Homo sapiens: one gene and its partners. The protein of the gene in region 1 purifies or fractionates together with the protein of each later gene. This does not show direct contact. Each region holds a gene or a part of one and is shown in the gene's direction. Other genes may lie near its edges. The genes, in order: SLC67A1, WDFY3, BRAT1, NPEPPS, ABHD17B, NUP133 and ITPRIP.

What was found.
Region 2: the proteins of SLC67A1 (region 1) and WDFY3 purify together in Homo sapiens (affinity purification with mass spectrometry; one large-scale study listed by BioGRID and IntAct). This does not show direct contact.
Region 3: the proteins of SLC67A1 (region 1) and BRAT1 purify together in Homo sapiens (affinity purification with mass spectrometry; one large-scale study listed by BioGRID and IntAct). This does not show direct contact.
Region 4: the proteins of SLC67A1 (region 1) and NPEPPS purify together in Homo sapiens (affinity purification with mass spectrometry; one large-scale study listed by BioGRID and IntAct). This does not show direct contact.
Region 5: the proteins of SLC67A1 (region 1) and ABHD17B purify together in Homo sapiens (affinity purification with mass spectrometry; one large-scale study listed by BioGRID and IntAct). This does not show direct contact.
Region 6: the proteins of SLC67A1 (region 1) and NUP133 purify together in Homo sapiens (affinity purification with mass spectrometry; one large-scale study listed by BioGRID and IntAct). This does not show direct contact.
Region 7: the proteins of SLC67A1 (region 1) and ITPRIP purify together in Homo sapiens (affinity purification with mass spectrometry; one large-scale study listed by BioGRID and IntAct). This does not show direct contact.

The regions. Positions count from the first base shown.
Region 1 is NC_000011.10:2,922,512-2,925,746, forward strand, and holds the end of SLC67A1 (solute carrier family 67 member A1), read left to right. Parts: coding exon 1-45; intron 46-2,498; coding exon 2,499-2,686; 3' UTR 2,687-2,735; downstream 2,736-3,235. UniProt on the Homo sapiens protein: May act as a transporter of organic cations based on a proton efflux antiport mechanism. May play a role in the transport of chloroquine and quinidine-related compounds in kidney. Plays a role in the regulation of lipid metabolism.
Region 2 is NC_000004.12:84,732,691-84,736,190, reverse strand, and holds part of WDFY3 (WD repeat and FYVE domain-containing protein 3), read left to right. Parts: coding exon 1-21; intron 22-1,070; coding exon 1,071-1,148; intron 1,149-2,513; coding exon of another isoform or gene 2,514-2,516; exon of another isoform or gene 2,517-2,532; intron 2,533-2,581; coding exon 2,582-2,809; intron 2,810-3,500. UniProt on the Homo sapiens protein: Required for selective macroautophagy (aggrephagy). Acts as an adapter protein by linking specific proteins destined for degradation to the core autophagic machinery members, such as the ATG5-ATG12-ATG16L E3-like ligase, SQSTM1 and LC3.
Region 3 is NC_000007.14:2,545,525-2,549,024, reverse strand, and holds part of BRAT1 (integrator complex assembly factor BRAT1), read left to right. Parts: intron 1-1,546; coding exon 1,547-1,701; intron 1,702-3,500. UniProt on the Homo sapiens protein: Component of a multiprotein complex required for the assembly of the RNA endonuclease module of the integrator complex.
Region 4 is NC_000017.11:47,590,108-47,593,607, forward strand, and holds part of NPEPPS (puromycin-sensitive aminopeptidase), read left to right. Parts: intron 1-609; coding exon 610-774; intron 775-1,796; exon of another isoform or gene 1,797-1,848; coding exon 1,849-1,953; intron 1,954-2,377; coding exon 2,378-2,438; intron 2,439-3,500. UniProt on the Homo sapiens protein: Aminopeptidase with broad substrate specificity for several peptides. Involved in proteolytic events essential for cell growth and viability. May act as regulator of neuropeptide activity.
Region 5 is NC_000009.12:71,876,694-71,880,193, reverse strand, and holds part of ABHD17B (alpha/beta hydrolase domain-containing protein 17B), read left to right. Parts: intron 1-3,500. UniProt on the Homo sapiens protein: Hydrolyzes fatty acids from S-acylated cysteine residues in proteins. Has depalmitoylating activity towards DLG4/PSD95. Has depalmitoylating activity towards GAP43. Has depalmitoylating activity towards MAP6. Has depalmitoylating activity towards NRAS.
Region 6 is NC_000001.11:229,466,842-229,470,341, reverse strand, and holds part of NUP133 (nuclear pore complex protein Nup133), read left to right. Parts: intron 1-3,500. UniProt on the Homo sapiens protein: Involved in poly(A)+ RNA transport. Involved in nephrogenesis.
Region 7 is NC_000010.11:104,309,200-104,311,832, reverse strand, and holds the end of ITPRIP (inositol 1,4,5-trisphosphate receptor-interacting protein precursor), read left to right. Parts: 3' UTR 1-2,133; downstream 2,134-2,633. UniProt on the Homo sapiens protein: Enhances Ca(2+)-mediated inhibition of inositol 1,4,5-triphosphate receptor (ITPR) Ca(2+) release.

The DNA.
Region 1 (3,235 bases):
TCACCGACAGCATGCTGATCAAGGCTGTCTCCACCTCGGACACAGGTGAGTGTGGCCAGCGAGTGGAGCAGCCTCCTCCAGGAAGCCCTAGGAGCTACCCGGTGGGGATGGGGTGGGCAGCCTAGGGTCTGTGTGGGGTGGGTAGGGTGGGGGGCCTGGGGTCTGTGTGGGTTGAGTGGAGTGGGTGGGGTGGGGGCTTGGGGTCTGTGTGGGATGAGTAAGGTGGGGAGCCTGGGTCTTGCATGAGACTCCTGCCCTACCACCTAGCCCAGCTGGGGGCAGGCCAGGGGCCTGGGAGGGGGCTGCCCGCAGGTGGCAGTTGGCTTGGCCCTGAGAAGCACCTGAGGACTTTGCCTGCCAGGCCTGGAGGCCCCGGGGACTTCTGGGCCCTCCCCCAGCACGGGGAGTGGGGCACACAAGTGCTCAGGAGCTTCCTGAATGAATGAGGGAGTGAATGAATGCATACCAGTAATTAAATCCAGGAATCCCCTAGGCCACTGCAGGGGACACAGGTCCCCTAGACATAGATTCCCCCAGTCCCCACTTCCGACCCAGCTTTCTTTCTTGAGGCCGAAGAGAGCCGCTCATGCAGACTGGGGGTGTCCTGGGCCCGATGTTATCCAGGCTCCTGCCCCACCCCAGGCACAGTGTGGGTACACACTGGCCAGTGCAGGGGGCTCCTGTGGGCTGGTTGAGGTCAAAGGACTCAGGAGTCCTTTGGAGTACTGGAGATTCTTCCAGGCCTCCCCAGCAGCAGATCCAGAAAGCTCAGGGCACACATCTGACACTCCATCCACCTGCCTGTCTGGGAGGCAGCAGATCCAGAAACTCAGGGCACACATCTGACACTCCATCCACCTGCCTGTCTGGGAGGCAGCAGATCCAGAAACTCAGGGCACACATCTGACACTCCATCCACCTGCCTGTCTGGGAGGCAGCAGATCCAGAAACTCAGGGCACACATCTGACACTCCATCCACCTGCCTGTCTGGGAGGCAGCAGACCAAGGTCTAGAGGCCCGGATGTGGCCGGGCTGCAAAGGGCAGGCCTATTCTCAGGGCTGCCTGGGAACCTCCAAGGCCTTCGGGGACTGTGACTCCATGGTGCATGGGCTGATGCAGGCTGAGCCAGGAGGGCTTCCTGGAGGAGGTTGGGCAGCACTTTGGAGAGGCCAGGAGGATGGCACAGGAGAGGAAGGCCTGGGGAGATGAGGACCCGGCCTGGCTGGGAAGAGGCCCCTGGAGGCTGAGGGAGACCAGGCCCAGGCCATTGGGCCACGTCATGCGCAGACACCACCCCTGGCCTGGTAGGAGCCAGCATCTGGTTCCCAGCAGCAGCTTGGAAACCCAGCGACAGAAGGGGCAGGAACTGCACCCTGAGTCTGCAGAAGAGGCTGCTCTTAATGGTCCTCCATGCTGGGCCCTGAGCCCAGGTGGGGCCTGGCCAGCTCCTCATCACAGCTGACCAGCCCTGGGAGTTCCAACTCCAGGAGACCTGGGCTCTGAAGTCCCTGGAGCCAGAGACCCTCTGGGCACGGGACCAGAGGCAGTGTCCTCCCACCTGGAGTCCTGGGGGGTCCTCCCGCTTGGCGAGTGCTGCCCCCCTTGTTGCCCGAGTGTTGACAACAGCCACAGATAGTGCCCACGTGCCCGTCCATGCTGCGGGTAGCTGGCCACAGGGGCGTGGAGATGCGGTGTCAGGGACAGAGCAGGCTGCTGCGCAGGTCGGGGCTGTCTGGGGAGCCTCGGAAGCCGCTCGGTCTTGCTCTGGGGACAGGAGGGGCAGGTGGAGGGGCCCTGCATGGGCTTCCAAAGCCCCTCCCAGCCCTGTGAGGGGGAGTTCCATGGAGTAGTAGGAGCTCCGCAGGGTGGGGCGGCTGGAGGAAGGGCTGATGGCCAGGAGGGGCCGTGGGATGGGGGTGTCATGCCCACTCTGAACTCAAGCCCCAACGGTGTCTCACAGGCCAGGCTTAGCCTCCCCACTGCATCACCAGCCCTCGGTGGTGGCAGGCACCCTGGGAAAGAGCCGTGAGAGCCAGCTCCCTGACAGCCTGGGCGGGAGGTTCCGGGCCCCAGGCACAGATGCCATCTCCCTTGGCAGGCCTGGCAGGGCGGGGCCTTCTGCGGTGACCTGTGGTCCCATTCCCAGGCTCCTCCTGTGCTTGGAAACTTTCTGGAGCAGGGAAGAGACTCAGCCCAATGCCCTGGGAAGCACCCTGCATGGCTGAGAGGTCCTCGGGGAACAGACCAGTGGGTAGAGAGAGCTGTGTTTGCTCCAAAGGCTGGGCGGGTGGCAGGGGGTGGGGGACTGGAGGTTAGAAGCTGGCAGGTGGAAAGGATGGGTGTTCAGGGGAGTATTTCACCAGACTATGCAAGGTGCGGACTGCGCCGTGAGGTCAGGGTGGGTCAGGAGAGATGGGAGGCCATGGCTGTGTTCAGGAAGTGGGCAGTTGGCCCAGGGAGCTGCCCAGGGCCTGACTACCCCCATGCACCCCCCAGGGACCATGCTGGGCCTCTGCGCCTCTGTACAACCACTGCTCCGAACTCTGGGACCCACGGTCGGCGGCCTCCTGTACCGCAGCTTTGGCGTCCCCGTCTTCGGCCACGTGCAGGTTGCTATCAATACCCTTGTCCTCCTGGTCCTCTGGAGGAAACCTATGCCCCAGAGGAAGGACAAAGTCCGGTGACCGCTGCCCAGACACAGACTGGCAATAAACTCCTACTAAATCCCTCCGACCTCTTCCGGCCTGGTTTCTGCAGGCTCACGCATGGTCTGCCTGCGTCCTTCAGTGAGGGATGGGGCCTCGGGCTGGAGGGCTTCCTCAAGGAGGGCGCCTACAGCTGGGCAAAGCTCTGGGGAGGACAGAACCACCCAAATTGGTTCACTGTTATTAGTACAGCCCTGAGTCCGCCCATGGAGGAGGTCCCCCTGCTGCCACACAAACAGCTCTTGCTCACATCCCAAGCAATGGCGAGCTCACTGCCCAACTCCCGCCCACAGTGTGCCTGCCCAAGAGCAGAAACAGGTTGCTTTAAAAGATCAGGGAACCTGGCTGGGCGCAGTGGCTCACGCCTGTAATCCCAGTACTTTGGGAGGCCGAGGCGGGAGGATCATGAGGTCAAGAGATCGAGACCATCCTGGCCAACATGGTGAAACCCCGGCTCTTCTAAAAATATTTTTTAAAAAATTAGCTGGGTGAGGTGGTGCACGCCTATAGTCCCAGCTACTCGGGAGG
Region 2 (3,500 bases), on another chromosome or scaffold:
AAACACAGTCTTTCCACCCAGGTACTTTTTTAGTTTCATTGCTGATATTAGTTGTAGTATTTTGTATAATATACTTAACATGTACAAGCAATTGATTGGAAATGAAACTTTTCTGTATTTTTGCTTTAGAATAGAGATAGAAGTAATCCAGACTATGGGAATTTCTCTCATTTTCTTATGATAAAACTATATATGAGTGCTATTTACTTATACCCATTTTATAACTGGATATAAGATGAGATTTAGAGATTAATGTATGATCAGACTATAGATAATTTTCTCTCAATTTTCCCAGCTTTCAATAATGTTATTACTAATAATTATATAAATTTTAAGGCAATAGCCAAACAAGCCTTTTTTAATTTTTACAATCTTGTTGTGTATACCTATGGTTTTTTAAAAGCTCATCTGCCTCCAGCATTAACTTCTTCCTCATCCTACTTCCTTCACCATCCCAGAATCTAAGTGGCAGCTATGAAAAGGATCTGAGAGAAATAGTATGTGTCAGCCATCTCATGCATCAGGTTAGGTTTTCTAGGAAGCAAACTCTGAGATGGAGTTTAGTGTGCATAATGTATATTAGGGGGTGCCCTTGGGATCAATACCTGTGGAAGGGAGAAGAAAGCAGGATTGGACATAGGGAAAAGTCAGGCTGCAGTGCTGGTCTAGTGACAGCCTCAGCCAAGCTAAGTGGAGCTTTGAGGACAGAATACCCTCTTATAATTGACCTCCATTAAGCTGAAATGTGTGAGTCTTCTTACCCCTAGATCGTTGGATGTGGGGCACCCCGTCGGCCCTCTGCAGCTAAGGCCATCCCTGAGGGTGTTGAGAGCAGCCCAGACACGTGGGCAGCAAGCCCTTCCTTGAAGGGGCTTTGGGGGTGGGAGAGCATGCAGATCTGTGTCCATCACACAAGCATATAATTCATTCTGAATTTTTTGTTTTAGTTTTCTGTTTTGGTGCTTTTGGCAGAATTTTAACCAATTATTTAGCATTAATTTCAAGGGTAATTAACTATTTTTTTCCAGAAATCCATGAAATATTAAGACTCTTTTTCCATCCATTGTTAGGAGATTTCGCAGTGGATGTTTACTCACATTGCTGTTGTTCGTGACTTAGTAGATACACAATATAAAGAATATCAGGAGGTAAGGACTTATAATCATCATAATGGTTTGTTTTACATTTTTTGTATGTGAAAGGTCTCTGTTTGTCCTGGTATCTTTCTGCCCATTTTAAGGTACTTGCTGGACTGCATTCGTCATCAGATGATGGTTTTAATTATTCCTGCCATCAGCTACTTTGGCTACTGATTTTAGGATGGAAAATTTTAATCTTCTGTCAACAAACTGCATTTCAAAAAGCAACTAACTGAAAATGAGCCCAGCTGAATTCTGTTGACATTCACTACTGATATGTTACATGTCTTTGTTCCTAATAAAAATAAAAATGTAAGAATGAGCCTTCTTTTTCAGGCTTTTAACAAGGAGATTGTGAAAATACGCATCCAAGTCTCTGAGAAGTCTCTTAAAATTGTAAAAAATTACAAGATTGAATGAAATTATTTTTTACTATACTACAAGTGCTTGGTGATTATGTCAGTGAAAAATAAATTTATTGAAATTCTCTTGGTAAATTCATAATTACTCAAAAGCTTATCTTAAATATTTTATTCTCAGATTAGCTATTTTGGATCTATTAAAGGTTTCTGAATGGTTAACTGCTAATATTTTACGGATATAACACTAGATCCTTAGTTTCCCCAACCAAAGAACATATCAGTACTACTGTGATAGATAATTTTTTAATTGTTCACTCAGTAATCTTTACTGTCAGTTATATTTTAGAAATCTTTATTTTTAGATTTAAATTGTATATACTTATATTCCATGAATCATTGGGCAAGTTATTTGTCACTGTCTACTGTTGAAATGTTATATATTTGTCATTTGATAGATAAGAACTTGTACTGTGTCATAATTTCCATTTAAAAAATGGTTTGGATCTATCCCAGTGGCCAGAAGAAAATGGTTTCTCTTTGATTTTTGTATGAACATCAAGTTTCCTCTTAGTGCTGCATGTTTATATTCTTCATCTAAAATCTTTGGAAATGTTTACCTAGTTCACCAGTAATCAAGCCTGTTGGCACTTTTTCTTCATCTGACTTCCTAGAATATCCCCCGTACATGTTGTGGTAGCTATTTTACAGTTTGGTGTATCCTTAAATTACCATATATATTTATTAACGCACATAGGGCTAACCATTTCAATATAATTCATAGTAATATTACCATCTTTCCTGTGCCAGAGAAACAAACTTCTTTCAACTCTCTGTTTCACTATATTGCACACTCTACCCTATCCATGTCTGTCATTTACTTGATGCTTTAAGAAGTCCACCTTCTACAACAAAACCTCTTACTTTAACCATAAACAAATGTAATTTTACTTTTATAATGTTAACTGAAATGGTGTGGATTGTGTTTGTTTCCAAATAATAACTTGATTTTCAGTGACTTGTAGACTTGTTACTGTTACTCCTGCTTTTGCTTGAAAACCGACCTGGACTCTTTCCTGTCAGCGTCAGCAGAATGCCCTGAAGTACGTGACAGAAGAGTGGTGTCAGATCGAGTGCGAGCTGTTGAGGGAGCGGGGGCTGTGGGGCCCTCCCATCGGCTCCCACCTCGACAAGTGGATGCTGGAGATGACAGAAGGGCCCTGCAGGATGAGGAAAAAGATGGTGCGAAATGATATGTTTTATAACCATTACCCTTACGTGCCAGAAACTGAGCAAGAGACAAATGTGGCGGTGAGTATGCAGAATTCAATGATCACAATGGCTCTTTCAAGTTTTTATTTTCCTCTGTAAGCGTTTTTTCTCTATTTAGTCAATTACCTCAAATAGCTAATTTTAAAAATTCAACATACGCTATTAAATTGATAACTTCAGAGTGGAGGTGGAGTGAAAAGATGCAACAGTGCAAGAAGGAGACATCATAATAAAGAGGTTTAGATTACAGACTCCAGAGCCAGACTGCCCAAATTTAAGACCTGACTCTGCCACTTTGCTATTATAGCTGGGTTATGGGTCATTAAACCTCTCTGAGTTTTCATTTTATTATGCCTGAATTGGAGCAAATAATAGTTCCACCTCGTAGGACTGTTAGGAGGATTTAGTTCATTAAAATTAGTTAAGTACTTAGAATAGTGTCTGGTCCAGAATAAGCACTGTATATTAGAACACATGAATCTTCTAAGTAGCTCTGATCATATAAGGTGAGGCAGCTTGAATTGTTCCAATGCCTCTTGTTTTTCTCTGACAAACACCCTGGCTCCATTTATCTTGTACTGATTGGTTTAACCCCAGTCCTGATGCTAATATAGAGCTTAGCATCAACTTAAGTGTCTATCAGCAGAGTAATAGATAAAGAAAATATGCTGTGTATACATAATGGAATAGTATTCAGCCTTAAAAAAATAAGGAAAGCCTGTCATTTGTA
Region 3 (3,500 bases), on another chromosome or scaffold:
ATGATTTTTTAGATTTTGAACTCAGTGGCATTGTTTTTTGTTTGTTTGTTTGTTTGTTTTTGAGACAGAGTCTTGCCCTGTCACCAGGCTGGAGTGCAGTGGTGCGATCTCGGCTCACCGCAACCTCCACCTCCCGAGTTCAAGCAGTTCTCCTGCCTCAGCCTCCCAAATAGCTGGGACCACAGGCGCCCGCCACCATGCCTGGCTAATTTTTTATATTTTAGTAGAGACAGGGTTTCATTCACCATGTTTGCCAGGATGGTCTCAATCTCCTGACCTCGTGATCTGCCTGCCTTGGCCTTCAAAAGTGCTGGGATTACAGGCGTGAGCCACCACGCCCCGCCTTTTTTTTTTTTAGAGAGACAGGGTCTCCCTCTGTCGCCCAGGCTGGAGTACAGTGGTGCAGTGATAGCTTGCTGCAGCCTCGAACTCCTGGGCTCAAGCAATCCTCCCGTCTCAGCCTCCTGAGTAGCTGGGACTGCAGATGTGTGCCACCATGCCGGGCTAATTTTTTTTTATTTTTTGTAGAGACAGGGTCTTGCTATGTTGTTCTCCTGCCTTGGCCTCCCAAAGTGCTGGGACTACAGGTATGAGCACCTCACCCAGCCTGCAGTGCTGATTCAGGTGGACATAGTGCTTTTTGGGTCCTGGCCTGGTTCTCCTCCTCTGCATGCTCCTCACTCTCCTTACTGAACCACATTCTTTCCACAGGGGCTTCTCACTGGGAAACTCTCCCAACCTTTGCCTCAAAATGTCTTTTTCCCCCACTGGTGCTTTTGAGCGATAGCATAGCTGGTTATAGAAATACAGGATGCCAGTTCTGGAGAGGAATGTTTGTTCCATTGTACCTGCTTGCATGGAGCACTGTCTAAGGAAAAGTACCCATTTGGAAGGTGAAAATGCTCTTCCACTTTTTTTTTTTTTTTTTTTTGGAATGGAGTCTCGCTCTGTCGCCCAGGGCTGGAGTGTGCCGTGTGCAATGACGTGGTCTTGGCTCACTGCAGCCTCTGCCTCCCAGGTTCAAGCGATTCTCCTGCCTCAGCCTTCCAATTAGCTGGGACTACAGGCATGAGCCACCACACCTGGCTAATTTTTTGTATTTTTAGTAGAGATGGGACTTCGCCATGTTGGCCAGGCTGGTCTCGAACTCCTGAGCTCAAGTGACCACCCGCCTTGGCCTCCTAACGTGTTGGGATTACAGGCGTGAGCCACCACGCCCAGCCTGGTCTTTCACTTTAATTTGCATTTCTTTTTCACTATCAGTGAGACAGAACATTTTTTCAGCATTTTTGGCCATTCACCTGTTGTGAAAGGTGACAGTGTTCCGCCTTTCACCTGTTGTTAAGGTGTTGGCTTTCTAGCCCTTACTGAATTAAAATTATGAGTCATTTGCCGTATTTGTTGCAGATATTTTTTTCCCAGTTGGATCCCTAAATCTAACACCCTGCAAGAAAAGGGTCTGGGAATTGCTAGGAGAAGAGCGGTCATCCAGGGGGACACCTGGTGCCGTACCCCTGGTGACCCCTGGGCTGGGCCATCCCCACAGAGTCCAGTGTCGTGCTGCTGCAGGAGCACCCCTGCCTGGTGGAGCTGCTGTCCCATGTGCTGAAAGTCCAGGACCTGAGTTCTGGGGTCCTCTCCTTCTCACTGCGCCTGGCAGGAACCTTCGCAGCCCAGGAAAACTGCTTCCAGTATCTTCAGGTGAGCCTGGGGCCTCCCACCTGAGTGTCCCGTGGAGAGGTGGGCAGGCTTTTCCTCCCGCAGCCAGGTGGGGCATTTGTAGCCATCACCATCCCAAGTCCCAGCGGCCTGCCCCGACCCTGTGTCCTCACTAGAACTGCATGTTTTTTACCCCCGACTGTAGCCCCCTTTGAAAAATTCGCCCGGAGTGATGCTGGGGCTAAGGAGTTGAGGTTTTTTGGAATAAGATGACTGGCACGGGCTCCCAGCTCTGACCAGCTGTCTGAGCTTGCCCACGGCCGCAAGCCTCCATCTCTTCCTGGGACGGAGACAGGAGTCGCAGCTGCGCCGTGGCCTCCGTCTCTTCCTGGGACGGAGACAGGAGTCGTAGCTGCCCCGTGGCCCCCGTCTCTTCCTGGGACGGAGACAGGAGTCGTAGCTGCGCCGTGGGGTTGTCGTGAGGACCAAATGAGACCGCACATCCTGCACCTCCAGCGACCCAGCCTACAAATGAATGAATAACTAATGAGAATGTGAATGACTAATGAGAATGTCTTTTTTTTAAAAAATTAATTTTATTTATTTTTATTTTATTTTATTATTATTTTTCGAGACAGAGTCTTGCTCTGTCACCCAGGCTGGAGTGCAATGGTTCGAACTCAGCTAACTGCAGTCTCCACCTCCCAGGTTCAAGCGATTCTCCTGCCTCAGCCTCCCGAGTATCTGGGACTACAGGCACCTGCCACCACGCCCAGCTAATTTTTGTAGTTTTAGTAGAGACAGGATTTCACCATTTTGGCCAGGCTGATCACGAACTCCTTGACCTCAAGTGATCCGTCTGCCTCGGCCTCCCAAAATGCTAGGATTACAGGCGTGAGCCACCATACCCGGCCTTTTTTTGTTTTGTTTTTTAGAGACAGAGTCCTGCTCTGTCGTCCAGGCTGGAGTGCAGTGGCAGCTCACTGCAGCCTTGACCTCCTGGGCTCAAGTGACCCTCCCCATTCAGCTTCCCGAGTAGCTGGGTCCACAGGTGCATGAACCACACCTGGCTAACTTTGTTATCTTTGGTAGAGATGGGGTCTCACTATGTTGCCCAGGCTGGTCTCAAACTCCTGGTCTCAAGCGATCATCCTGCCTCGGCCTCCCAAAGTGTTGGGATACAGTCGTGAGCCACTGCTCCCAGCCAAGAATTTCTACATAGCAAGGCATGAGAGCTCGAGAGCCTCCCAGAGCTGTGTCTTCCAGCTTCAAGTGCCTCAGACAGGCACCGCTGAGTCTGTCGGGATGCGTGGTGTGAGCTTCAGGGCCCTTGCCCGTCTACCACGACGGCTTCTCTTGGTGCCTCACAGGCCCTCGCCAGGTTGTGCGAAGGCACATCCAGTACCGTTAGCTTGCCGTTCACGATGCCCCCCAGTTAAGCAGCTGCAGGCTCCCTAGCAGCCCACCCAGGCACCATCTTGCTGCAGGACAGACTTTCCAAGGTGTCCTAGGGTGCTGCCGTACAGTGAATCCGGGGGCCCTTGTCTGTCAGCAGCTGGTATGAAAGTACCCTCCAGGCTGGGCACGGTGGCTCATGCCTATAATCCCAGCACTTTGGGAGGCTGAGGCAGGCGGATCACCTGAGGTCAGGAGTTCGAGACCAGGCTAACCAACATGGTAAAGCCCTGTCTCTACTAAAAATGAAAAAATTAGCTGGGTGTGGTGGTGGGCACCTGTAATGCCAGCTACTCAGGAGGCTGAGACAGGAAAATAGCTTGAGCCCAGGAGGCAGAGGTTGCAGTGAGCCGAGATGTGCCACTGCACTCCAGCCTAGGCAACAG
Region 4 (3,500 bases), on another chromosome or scaffold:
ATTGCTTGAGCCCAGGAGTTCAAGGCTGCAGTAAGCTACGATGGTGCCCCTGCCACTCCAGCCTGGGCAACAGAATGAGACCCTGTCTGGGTTTGCGGGAGAAGTTATTTACAATGTTTTGAAAATATCCTTTAGCCCAGGCATGGTGGCTCACACCTGTAATCTTAGCACTTTGGGAGGCCGAGGCAGGTGGATCACTTGAGTTCAGAAGTTCCAGACCAGCCTGGCCAACATGGCAAAACCCCCTCTCTACTAAAAATACAAAAATTAGGCAGGCATAGTGATACATGTCTGTAATCCCAGCTACTGGTGAACACTCCAGCCTGGTGACAAAACAAGACTTTGTCTCAAAAAAAAAAAAAAGAAAAGAAAGGAAAAGAAAATGACCCTCAGATATAATTCTCATATCACCAGTTGGCCTTTCTTGACATCTCTTTTAGTCTTCTCTCTTTTTCAGAAATGTGAGTTCTTTGCCAAATGTTTTGAACTGAATTTTAGGTCATTAAATTGTGAGTTTGGGAATATAGTGGAAGGGACATGTGAGTGTTTTAGATTAGTAGAATGACAATCATTTCATTTTCTTTAAGTATTTTCATCTTTTGTTTTTAGGAATGGTGGACTCATCTTTGGTTAAATGAAGGTTTTGCATCCTGGATTGAATATCTGTGTGTAGACCACTGCTTCCCAGAGTATGATATTTGGACTCAGTTTGTTTCTGCTGATTACACCCGTGCCCAGGAGCTTGACGCCTTAGATAACAGCCATCCTATTGAAGTGAGCCATACTTTCTAACCATTAGCCTATGACTGCTCTCATTTACAATGAAATACGTAATTTGTTACATAGATACTTTGGACTTTGAAAATAAGAGAAAATAGCATGGGTGATTTTACTGGTTCATATTTCTAGTCTTGAAAAGCTAGTAAGTCTAAGTTCTAATTAACATTTCTTTTTAAGGTAGGCAGTAAAAAAAAATTGGTCTGGCCAGGCGCAGTGGCTTATGCCTGTAATCCTAGCATTTTGGGAGGCTGAGGCAGGTGGATCACCTGAGGTCGGGAGTTTGAGACCAGCCTGACCAATATGGAGAAACCCCGTCTTTACTAAAAATACAAAATTAGCTGGGCACGGTGGCGCATGCCTGTAATCCCAGCTACTCGGGAGGCTGAGGCAGGAGAATCACTTGAACCTGGGAGGCAGAGGTTGCGGTGAGCCGAGATCGTGCCATTGCACTCCAGCCTGGGCAACAAGAGCAAAAAACTCTGCCAAAAAAAAAGAAAAAGAATAGTATGGGAGAAGTCATACCTATTGGGTAACACTATGGTTCCATTGTTTATGTCAAGGAAAATTCTGGACATATTTTATTGTCAGGGTCTGTTTTGTGAATACTTTAATTCTCTTGACTTAGCCTATCCCTACTTCAGTTTATATATATAAATTTTGTATCTAAAGAACTAGAGTTATAATGCTACTTCAACATATTTAATTAGGCTCCCATATAATTGTAATTCATTACAATTAGTGCAAGAAATCTAATGTTCTTCACCTCCATATCTTCCTCATCACTCCTCTGCAACTACCCCAAAAATAAACAGAACCATAGTGGCTTCTTTCCCAGCAGAACAAAGCCAGGACTGGAACCCAGGCTCTAAGGGATGACAGGAATCATGTTCTATTCAACTTTATTATTATTAGTTACTACATTTTTTTGAGGACCATCGTTATACATTATGAGTGAGTTAAAGGCAGAAAAATGTAAGTTAGAAGGGTTTTCCTAGAAAGCGTTTTATGTAATTCAGTATTACAGGCTATCTGCTTCCTGTCATAACCCTGAATCACACTGTCTGCCAGGTCAGTGTGGGCCATCCATCTGAGGTTGATGAGATATTTGATGCTATATCATATAGCAAAGGTGCATCTGTCATCCGAATGCTGCATGACTACATTGGGGATAAGGTAAAAAAAAACTTTAAATATTTCATTCTTTTATGGTGAAATCATAAGAGTTTTGCATGAAAAAAAGTCTCACTTTATTTGGATTAAGTTCCCAAATAGTTTCTGGCTTGTCATTTTTTTTTAATGACCAAAAAGAATGAGAATTCAATTATTTGAAGTTGACTACTCTGGTCTCTTAGATGAGTGATGTGCAGGTGTGTTTGGGAGTGGAAATGGGAGGCTGTTACAAAACTTAAGAGCAAGAATAGAAGGCATAGAGTACGCATTATTAAATAAAAGGCAGTAGGCATCAGAAGGATATATGTGTTTCAGTGTATCTGATACTTGAGTATTTGAGTAAATTTGTTTTTGATTACTGATATACAAATATACTATAAATTCTGAGATCTGACTTCCCTGGATTTTAAAAATTGTGTTTTCTCAGGACTTTAAGAAAGGAATGAACATGTATTTAACCAAGTTCCAACAAAAGAATGCTGCCACAGGTAATCTCTAATAGCTTGAGATAGAAATGGAGAGAAAGTATTGTCACTCTATCCAGGCTGGGACATTTTATTTTTGTTCTGAATACTTAAGGTCAGGATCCATGTAATAAATAAATTAGCCTTATTTGAAGCTGTGTTCAGGTTGAATATCTCTAATCTCAAAATCTGAAATTTGAAATGCTCCAGAATCTGAAACTTTTTCTTTCCTTTCTTTCTTTTTTTTAATTAAAGTTCTAGGGTGCATGTGCACAATGTGCAGGTTTGTTACGTCAGTATACATGTGCGGGCCATGTTGGTTTGCTGCACCCATTAACTCGTCATTTACATTAGGTATTTCTCCTAATGCTATCCCTCCCCCAGCCCCCTACCCCATGACAGGCCCTGGTGTGTGATGTTCCCCGCCCTGTGTTCAAGTGTTCTCATTGTTCAATTCCCACCCAAAATCTGAAACTTTTTGAGTGCCAACATGATGCTCAAAGGAAATGCTCATTGGAACATTTTAGATTTTGGATATTCCAATTATAGATGCTCAGCTAGTAAGTATAATGCAAATATTCCAAAATCCAAAAGAAATATGAAATTCAAAACATTTCTGGTCCCAAGCATTTTGGATAAGGGATACTCAACCTGCAGTAAGTCATAGGGTCAACATGAATCAGGACTCGTTATCCCTTTGGTCATCCTCCAGCATTCTGCTTTCCATAACTGAGTATTTTGCCAACTTAAAGAGTCTGGGCCGGGTGTGGTGGCTCACGCCTGTAATCCTAGCACTTTGGGAGGCCAGGATGTGCGGACTGATTGAGCCCAGTTCAAGACCAGCTTGCAACATAGCGAGACCCCACCTCTACAAAAAATACAAAAATATTAGCCGGGTGTGGTGGTATGTGCCTGTAGTCCCAGCTACTCAGGAGGCTGAAGTGGGAAGGGTCACTTGAGCCCAGGAGTTTGAGGTTACAGTGAGCAATCATGGCACCACTGCACTCCAGCCTGGGCAACAGAACAAGATCCTGTCTGAAAAAAATAAAAAATAAAGGGAATACAGTCATGTGTTGCTTAACAACA
Region 5 (3,500 bases), on another chromosome or scaffold:
AGGTGGTCTTTGATTTCCCTTTGAAGTTCTGATGGTTATTTGCATATTCTAGCCTTTGTGCCAATTTTGTCCTTTTATATTACTCAAGAAGTGCGTGAGTTTTGTCTAGGTTATTTATTGACACATGATATTCTTTCATTTCTAGAAACTATGTCTGTAGCTCAAAGTCCTTTTTCCTTTAGTACATTATTTCGTTTATTTTGCTTATCTCTTTCTTGTGATCAGTCTTGTCTGAGTACCCTTTCCACAAAACAGTAGTTATGAGTTTGGGTTACAGAGTCATTCTGTCATGTATCAGTTCCATTGATCAGATTTGTGACATTAGGCAACTTATGTAACTATTCTATGCCTCTGTTTTCTCAATTGCAAAATGGGTGTAATAATAGTCCCTAAAGCAGAGGATTGTTGAAAGGATTAGTTAATATGTGAAAAGTGTTTAGAATAGTGCCTGACACTTTGTAAGTGTTCAGTTAATGCTATTTGCTATTAGTAGTAGTGGAAGCCTTTTCTGAAATCAGCTGTTGGTTCTCCATTGCTTTTTGTTCTTTGTTTTGTTGATATCTGCTCTTAATTTTCTTTTTCTTGTTTTCTTTTTGTTTACTCTCTTCTTAAGTTGGACACTAATATTTAAAGCTAGACTTTTGTAATGGATAATTGTAACTCCTTTAGATGTGCCCTGCACTATCATTTTTCTGATGATTATATCTGACTTATTAAGAGTCATGCTTATATTCAGGCTTTTCTTCTATGTCTTAAGCTTATCAGTATCAGTAGCATCCTCAACAAGTCAGGTACCCCAGCACATTTTTACCTCTTAAGTAGTCTCTCTTTTGTCAATCCTCTTCGTATTCATATTCACCAAAGTTTTTGTTCTGGATTTTTAGGGATATACTTTGTTGTCTTCACCCTCCTTGCTCCCATTGCTCACTTGTACAAAAAACATTGTATTAACTATTCTCCTTTATTTCTCATATCTCAGATATCTCATAGAAGTCCCTTGGGATTTGGGGGGTTTTTGTTTGTTTTGTTGTTATTGTTGAGACAGGCTCTCACTCTGTAGCCCAGGCTGGAGTGTAGTGGCTCTATCACAGCTCGCTGTAGCCTTGACCTCCCATGCTCCAGCAGTCCTCCCACTCCAGCCACGCCAGTGGCTGAGATTACAGGCACACACTACCATGCCCAGCTAATTTTTGTATTTTTTATAGAGATGGAGTTTTGCCATGGTGCTCAGGCTGGTTTTCAATTCCTGGGCTCAAGCAATCCTCCTACCTCGGCCTCCCAAAGTGTTGGGATTATAGGTGTGAGCCACTGTGCCTGGCCTTCCCTTGGATTTATCTCCTTCCCTCCTTGCTGGAGTTTTTCAAAGAGAGACTTGATTTGGTTAAGTCTTACGAGTTTTTGTGGGCCTGCAGATCTCTCTCTCTCTTTGTTTTTTTTGATAGAGACAATGTTTTCCTATGTTGCTTAAGTGGTCCTCCCATCTTGGCCTCCCAAAGTGCTGGGATTACAGGAGTGAGCCACCACACCCAGCCCAGATACCTTTATCCTTATATTAAAACTGTATTTTTGTTCTATGTACAATTCTAGGTTAAAAGTTTGATTTCATCTTTAGCTTAAAATTATCTCTCCATTGTCTTTTGGCTTCCAGTGTTTATATTAGAAAGTCATATGTTCATCTGATCTTGTTCATTTTTAAGTAGTTTGTTGTTTTTTGGTACACTTTGAGGTGTTTCAATCTGACTTTTTTTCCCCCTTTAATTCTGAGAAATTCTTAAATAGTCTTATCTTTATTTTCTCCTGGAACTTCTATAGTATGGATAGTGATATTTCTACTTCTATTTCTATCTATTAAATTTTGTTGTTTTCTGTCTCTTAATTCCCACAAAAAAATTCCATATTTGCAAATTACTCAACCTGATCTTTTAGCTCACTGATGTGTTTTTCAACTGTTAACTGCTCAAGCAATCCACTGCGTCTGGCATGAGTTTTATAAGAACAAGTTGGACTTGAAATTATCTAAGTTTAACAAGCTATTTCAGTGATTTTTTTTTTTTTTTACAGAATAAAATGTTTTTCTTCAGTAACTTGCTCACACTATACTAAAACCTAGATTTATTTGTTTTGTTTATAGTTTTTGTGAAATTTTTCAGACTTAAAAAGTATTCAATTAACTTTTGAAAGTAGGTCTGTGTTGCTGCCCTATACCAGGCCTCTTATTAGGAAAGTGATCATTTGCAAGTTGTTGTCATTAAATAAGCCCCAGTTATCTGGCTTTTGGGCAGTGGAAGAGGGGAGTCATTCTGTCAGCATTAAGGAAGTGAAGTTGTCATTAAACTAGACCCTGGCACTGCAGTTTTTCTCCTTTCTGCTTCTCTCCTTTGGTGTTCATCCCCAGAAACTTCTTCACAGCATTATATATGTTCAACCAGCCAGCTTTATTTCAAAAGTAGTTTATTATAGTGTATGAAAGTTTTTCTGCTGGGTGCGGTGGCTCATGCCTGTAATCCCAGCAGTTTGGGAGGCCAAGGCAGGCAGATCATTTGAGGTCAGGAGTTCGAGACTAGCCTGGCCAACATCATGAAACCCCATCTCTACTAAAAATACAAAAATTAGCTGGGCATGGTGGTGTGTGCCTGTAATCCCAGCTACTGGGGAGGCTGAGGCAGGAGAATCACTTGAATGTGGGAGGCGGAGGTTGCAGTGAGCCAAGATCGCACCACTGCACTCCAGCCTGGGCGATAGAGTGAGACTTCGTCTCGAAAAACAACAACAAAAGTGTTTCTGGCTAAGAGATAAATTATAGGACTATAGTCTAGATACGTACCATTTACTTATTAAGCTTTTTAAAAGGCTATTGTGGCTCAGCAGTCAATGGTATATGAGGTAATCAGGGTTGACAAATAACCATAGACAGATATTAAACAGACAGCACTGATATTATACCTTGTACCTCATCATCTTTCTGCAGGTCATTTCCTCCTCTGGAACAGATCCTTTGAGTTCCTTCCCTTTCATCTTCTTCAACAGACACTTTATCCTCCTGACCAGGATAGTAAATTTGTAGCCAGAGTCTATAGTAAACATCACTAATTTATCACATCTTTTGCTGGCTAAGCCCTGTGTATGCCTTAGAATCATTCTCAGCACAACACTTCAGGAAGCCCTCAGTTAAAGTTAGCAGATGACACTTAGTTGTTATTTCTGTCCTATTTCTTGTTCCAACCAGAGTAAGCCATTAACTTATTCAGGCTGTATTTTGAAGCCTAAAAAGAAATAAAGGTAGGAAGCAATTAAAGCATTTCCTAATATCCAAGATGTTTTTCTGCCCTTCCCTCACCTTTTGAAGTCTTTTATGTTATACCTACCCTTGTTCCTCTCTTCCTGTGCTTTTTTCTGCTGCTTCTTATAAACACATTTATACTGAGCATTATAGGATATATTTGATTCTGTATTGAGTGAAAAGGGCATTTTTTCCCCCAGATATTCTCAACCATTTAGTC
Region 6 (3,500 bases), on another chromosome or scaffold:
CTGTCTCCAAGTACCTATTTGCTTTGCATGCTGATCTTCTTTTTTTTTTTTTTTGAGATGGAGTCTCACTCTGTTGCCCGGGTTCCAGTGATTCTCCTACCTCAGCCTCCCGAGTAGCTGGGATTACAGGTGCTAGCCACCACCCCGGCTAATTTTCATATTTTTAGTAGAGATGGGGTTTGATGTCGAACTCCTGACCTCAGGTGATCCACTCGCCTCAGCCTCCCAAAGTGCTGGGATTACAGGCGTGAGCTACTGCATCCATCCTGATCTTCTCCTTTGTCTCTCTCGATCTACTCTTTTTTCTGGGGGCAGGGGGCACTAAGTCTTGCTCTGTTGCCAGGCTGGAGTGCAACAGTGCAATGTCGGCTCACTGCAACCTCTGCCTCCTGGCTTCAAGCAATTCTCCTGCCTCAGCCTCCCAAGTAGCTGGGACTACAGGCATGTGCCACCATGCCCAGCTAATTTTTGTATTTTTAGTAGAGACCTGGTTTCACCCTTGTTGGCCAGGCAGATCTACTCTTGACTCTGCCACAGCAAGGTGGCCTTCCTGAATGGGCTCCCTTGCCCTCCGGCTTCTGCCAGGTCAGATGAATGTGAGGCCCTGCCATAAGGCCAGAAGTTGGAGTAGTTATTCTGCCAGCTTTCTTCCTTGCCTGTGCGCACTTTACATTGGCTGTGCCCCTCTGTCAGGGACTGTGCCTCCTGTCCAACTGCTTTCTCTGTGTTTCCAGTAGCTGCCCCCTCCTTGTGCCTCTTCAGGCCTGAGGTTGATAATGCCTCATCCTAGGGTGCTGCCCCATCCCTTTTTGGACCCCTTAATCTTGCCCACACCTTTGCAAACAGTACCTTCACTGAACTCCTCAGCTACCTCCTAGGATCCTGTTGCTACACCTTGCTTGTAGAATCAGATTTATTTTCAGAGAAAAAGTAAAGTCTGCTACAAACTTCAAAGACAGAAATGGTTAAGATGCTGGGCAGCCAGTGGCAGCTGGACATTGTGGAAATAGTGACGCAGTCCTCGTGCTTTTGTGAAGCTTCACAGCCTGATGAGGCAGCAAGGCAGACTTCGCTGTCTCCCTTTAAAGGTGTGACATTAGAACTTAGACCTGTTGTCTTAACTGAGACTGCAGAACTATCTGGTTTTAGAAACAGGGCCAGCTCTTCCCTGAGCTCTGTGAAATTTGGAATTCCTTATGCATTTGAGGAACTTCAAACTCTATTTGGTGTCTCAAATTTTGCTTCCTTCCTCCTATAGCCTAGCTGTATTCTAACATGTAGCACACTGTGCCGACAAGTCTCTTTTTCTTAATGTTTGATGTACTGTAACCTAAGTTTGATGTACTATAACCTAAATTCAGTCTTCCTGTTGATTCCATAAATGTGTTTAGTGTGAATTCTTTGCTTTTATGCATTTGGGTTAGTTCCTGGGGAATGGAAGGAAAAGCACTTTGTTATGTTTTGTTTTTAATCTAGACAGTATGCCAGAAATCTGAAAGAAAAACAAATCACCTCAAGTTTCATGATCTAACAAATCAAGTTGTTGTCATTTTTGTGTCCTTTTTGGTCTTTATTCATATATAATTTTATATGATAAGACAATTTTTTAAAATTAATTACAGACTACTTGTAAGAACTGAGCAAGAGCCTGGTTCATTATTCTGCATTTGGATCAAAGGGCAAAGTATAAGTGTCAATTTAGTGTATGTACATGTTTCAGTTAGCTGAATTATTGGAGAAGGGTCTGGAAATTATCAGTTGGATACATATAGAATAATATTTTAGGAATATGATACAGCAAAACTAAAAATGTGATTGGCTCCTCAAAAGAATGTTCCATATGAAAAATGGTAATGTTTAGGACTGTTCCTGTCACTATTTATCTTCATTTCTCATGATGTTCGTTGGTCTTTAGCTTCTCTGGGGTGTAGTTATAAAGGTTTTCTCCCGTGTCATAATGATCATGAAAAGAGAATACAATAGCTATATGCATATAGTAGTTTTTCTTTCTTTTTACCTGTCCTTCCACTTGGGGGTGACAAGTTACCTGTCTAAGGAGTATTTGTGTTTTGGGACGAGCTGGTTAACCAAAATCAATCTCTGATTGGTGGGCCATATAGAACGATATTTTGACTTGGCAGCCCTGATAGAAAGTAAAACAATACAGAGCTGCCTGAGGGTGCGCTCTCCACTTTGACTCTGTCTCCAGTTTGGGAAGGCCTTGTACCTCCCAGGGCTCTGGAAAAGCAGAGCTCACTGCTTAAGGAACAGACTATGTTGACACGGCATATGAGCAATATTTGAAATCACTGAATATATACATGATAAGAGAATTTAACAAGTGTTTTGGCATTTTATGTGCTTTTATGTTATTTTCTGTCTTTTATATTATATATGCTTTCCTTTTTTTTTTTTTTTGAGACTGAGTCTTGCTCTGTCGCCAGGCTGGAGTGCAGTGACACAATCTCTGCTCACCGCAGCCTCGGCCTCCTTGGTTCAAGCAATTCTCCTGCCTCAGCCTCCCAAGTAGCCGGGACTCCAGGTGCACGCCACGACGCCCAGCTAATTTTTGTATTTTTAGTGGAGACAGGGTTTCACCATGTTTTCCAGGATGGTCTTGATCTCTTGACCTTGTGATCCACCCACCTCCAAAGTGCTGGGATTGCAGGCATGAGCCACCGCACCCGGCCATTATATAGGCTTTCATTGTGTTTTTCATGTTAACAATGTAAAATATTCTTACACTTAAGCTTATAAATTAAATGTGCTAAAGATTTCTTGCCTGGGCTGTTAGGATGCCTTTGGCTAACATCAGAAATGCAAAAGGAAGAACAAGGTTTGCAAAAGGGAGGGATTTTGTTTGGGTCATGTTTTATCTGTGCCTATATAACTTGTTCCTTCAGCCAGTTTGTGAGGTCCTTGAGGGCAGCTAATCTGATTTTTCTTTCCTCTTATCTCTGAGTGTCCATTGCTATGCAAACTCTAAATAATGGGGGGAAAGCTTAAGTGCAGACTTGAACTTGAAACAGGAGTTTCAGTGCCTGATGGTATTTTTGCACTGTTATCTCCATGTATTAATTAATGACAAAGGAAGAGTTAGAAGTTATGTATTTAGTTCATTCTCTTATGTTGCTTACTTCTGTTCTACAAATGTTTCTGTTATGTCTGAAGAAGGGGAATTCCTCAAAGAAAGAAATTAGCAAGTTCACTTTTTGAGGTCATTATTTTAGTCTATTAGTTCATTAGTTTGGGGTATTACATTGTAAAGTGATGTCATCTGTAACCTAGTGCTATTTAAAGATGCACTGAGCAGAGTAGCTATAATAAAAAATATCATCGCTTAAAAATCTCAGTAACAATCCAGAATTTGCCTGTTTATAAGACTTATTTGGGCACTCTGACTTTTAAAAGTTAGGAGATGTGACTTTTCTTGATTTTTGAATTTATTTTTACCATCAACTGCCAATAAATTTTCCTCCATCTATAGGTCTGAGGATATG
Region 7 (2,633 bases), on another chromosome or scaffold:
ACAGGAAGCTTTTGGGTTTTAAAGAAAGAGATTGTATTTTAAATAGAGGATTTTGAGTCCTCTAGGGGACTTTGGCCTTTCCACTAAGGACAACCCTGCCCTCTTTCCCCAGAGTCTCTTTCCCAAGGATGCTTGACTTTCCCCAGCAACTGCTCACTTGCTTTGCAAAATAACAAGGGTGAAATGAATAGAGTTGGCCCCTAGGCCAAGAGGCTGGTTATGTTGGGGAAGGGCCTTATATCCTCAAAAGCTCTAGCCCCTCTGCATGCCTGGCTGAAGCACAGCCCCCGTTGAGAACCTGGGGGTGGAGCTCTGGTTCATCATCAAGGGTGTCATCCGAATCACCCAGACAACCTGGTCCATTGCCCCGACCCCGCCTTGAACCTACATGGTGCTCAGAATCCAGTCTGGAGTGGTCAGGCTAGGCTCGATTTTTAAAGATTTCCCCCAAGTGACTGATGGTACCCCTAGCTGAGGAAGCCCTCTCACTTTCTTTCTTAATGGAAAGTTAAAGAAAACCCAAGTGGACTACTTTCCCTACAGATCTATTGGAAGATAGATAGACCTGGGAAAAGCCAATGAGCCTGCTTGGAATCTGTGGTCTAAGTGGCATCAGCTACACCACAAGCTTCTCATGAGGGCACCCACATTCACGCTAGTGCCGTAAGCCTCAGAGAGAGGGTGGGAAGGCATAAGATGGTGAGCCCTTCTCCCAAGCAGGTCATGAATAGTCCACAAGCATTTGTCAGGAGCCTAACGTGCATGAGACATTGTGGAAGATGGGAAAATGAATAGGACCAAGCCTGTTCCCTAGGAGAGGCAGCAGAAGGTGGCCTTCCAAGTACTGAGCTATTCCAAGTGTGACCCTGCACTACACATACGGGTGTCACCTGGGGGCAGCTTCCTGGGCCGTGTCACAGACTCCAGTGGGATCCTGAGAAGTTAGGTAGAAGAATCTGCACTTCACCAAGTTCCCCACCTGATTCTGGATGTCCAAGAACCACTGGTACCTGGGCTGATTAGGGAAGGCCTCATGGTGGGGCGCTGCCAGATAGAGACTCTGAAAAATGACCAGGACTGTGGCCAGGAAAGACATTCCAGCCAGAAGCATGGAGTGAGGGTGGGAAGCACCTACTGTATGGCAGGCACCGTTCCGCACACACATTTGTTAATGCACACAGTTCCATGTCAGTCCTATGATGTAGGTGCTATTCTTATCCTCCCTGCTTTCCAGATAAGGAAACAGGCACTGAAGGGGCAACTGACTTACCTACTGTCACAGTGGTAAGTAGCACAGCCCAGATTCCAACCCAGGCAGTCCTGGTGTACATGTTGGCATATACTGAGAAGTCGTAGCAAATGAGGTTGAAAAGATAAGAGTGGGGCTGAACCATGCAAAGCCTTGAATGCTAATACAAGGTAAATTTGGACCTCACAACAAGCAGAGGTGGGCCATTGGCGGGTTTTGAGTGAGACAGTAACTTGATTCACCCCCAAACTAAGGAGTCCTTATCTATGTGATCAGTGCCATCCATGTCCTGTGCTGTAGGGTACATGGCCGGCTTCCCGAGCAGGGTTGGTGGCAGCTGGCAGTGGTTGGTGAATGTCCAGGAAGTCTTAACTCAAGCCACCCCAAGGCTGTGATTCAGAACATTTTCGTGGTCCGTCTCATCTCCACCTCACGGGACAGAGCTGGAAGGCTGTTTGGTTTGGCCAGCGACCGAAAGCAGAGGGAGCCAAGAGTCACAGAGTGAAGGGCAATGTGTGCCTTCAACAGGGCCCTCCCTCTCCGCCCCACTCTGCCTTGCCCCACCCCTGTCCCTGGGAAGGGCATCTTTTAGAGTTAACTTTTCTCATTGCCATCCAAAAATAGCTTGCTTGTTTAACTAGTTTGTTGTTTAAAAAATAAACATAAAAGCAATAATACAGTCATAATTTTAAAATTCAAGTACTAACAGGAAAATTAAGTAACAGACTAACGGTCCCACTTCTGACTTCTTAGTCCACTCCCCAGAGATAACCAATATGAAGTTTTTGGTGTATCCTTCCAAAATTTTTCTGTGTATGTGTCACATGTATGTATATATATATGCATCCTTTTAGTCCTTTTTTACATAAATGGCATCATACCGACTAATTCTTCTTGGTTATCTTTTTGAACATTTGGCTCTACCTTATTCTTTAAACTAGCTGCTTACTGGCCGAGTACATTAGCTCACACCTATAATCCCAGCACTTTGGGAGGCCAAGGCAGGAAAATCGCTTGAGCCCAGGAGTTTGAGACCAGCCTGGGCAACATGGCAAACCTTGTCTCTACAAAAAATATATAAATTAGCCAGACATGGTGGCGTGTACCTCTAATCCCAGCTACTCCGGAGGCTGGGGTGGGAGGATTGCTTGTGCCTGGGAGGCAGAGGCTGCAGCGAGCCGTGATCACTCCACTGCACTCCAGCCTGGGTGACAGAGTGAGTAAGACCCTGTCTCAAAAAAAAAAAAAAAAAATATATATATATATATATATATATATGGCTGCTTACTATCTCACTGTCTGTATGCATGTACCATAATTTACCCAACTTTCCCTACTGAGGAACACTTAAGTTGTCTCCACTTTTTGCTGTTATAAACAACAC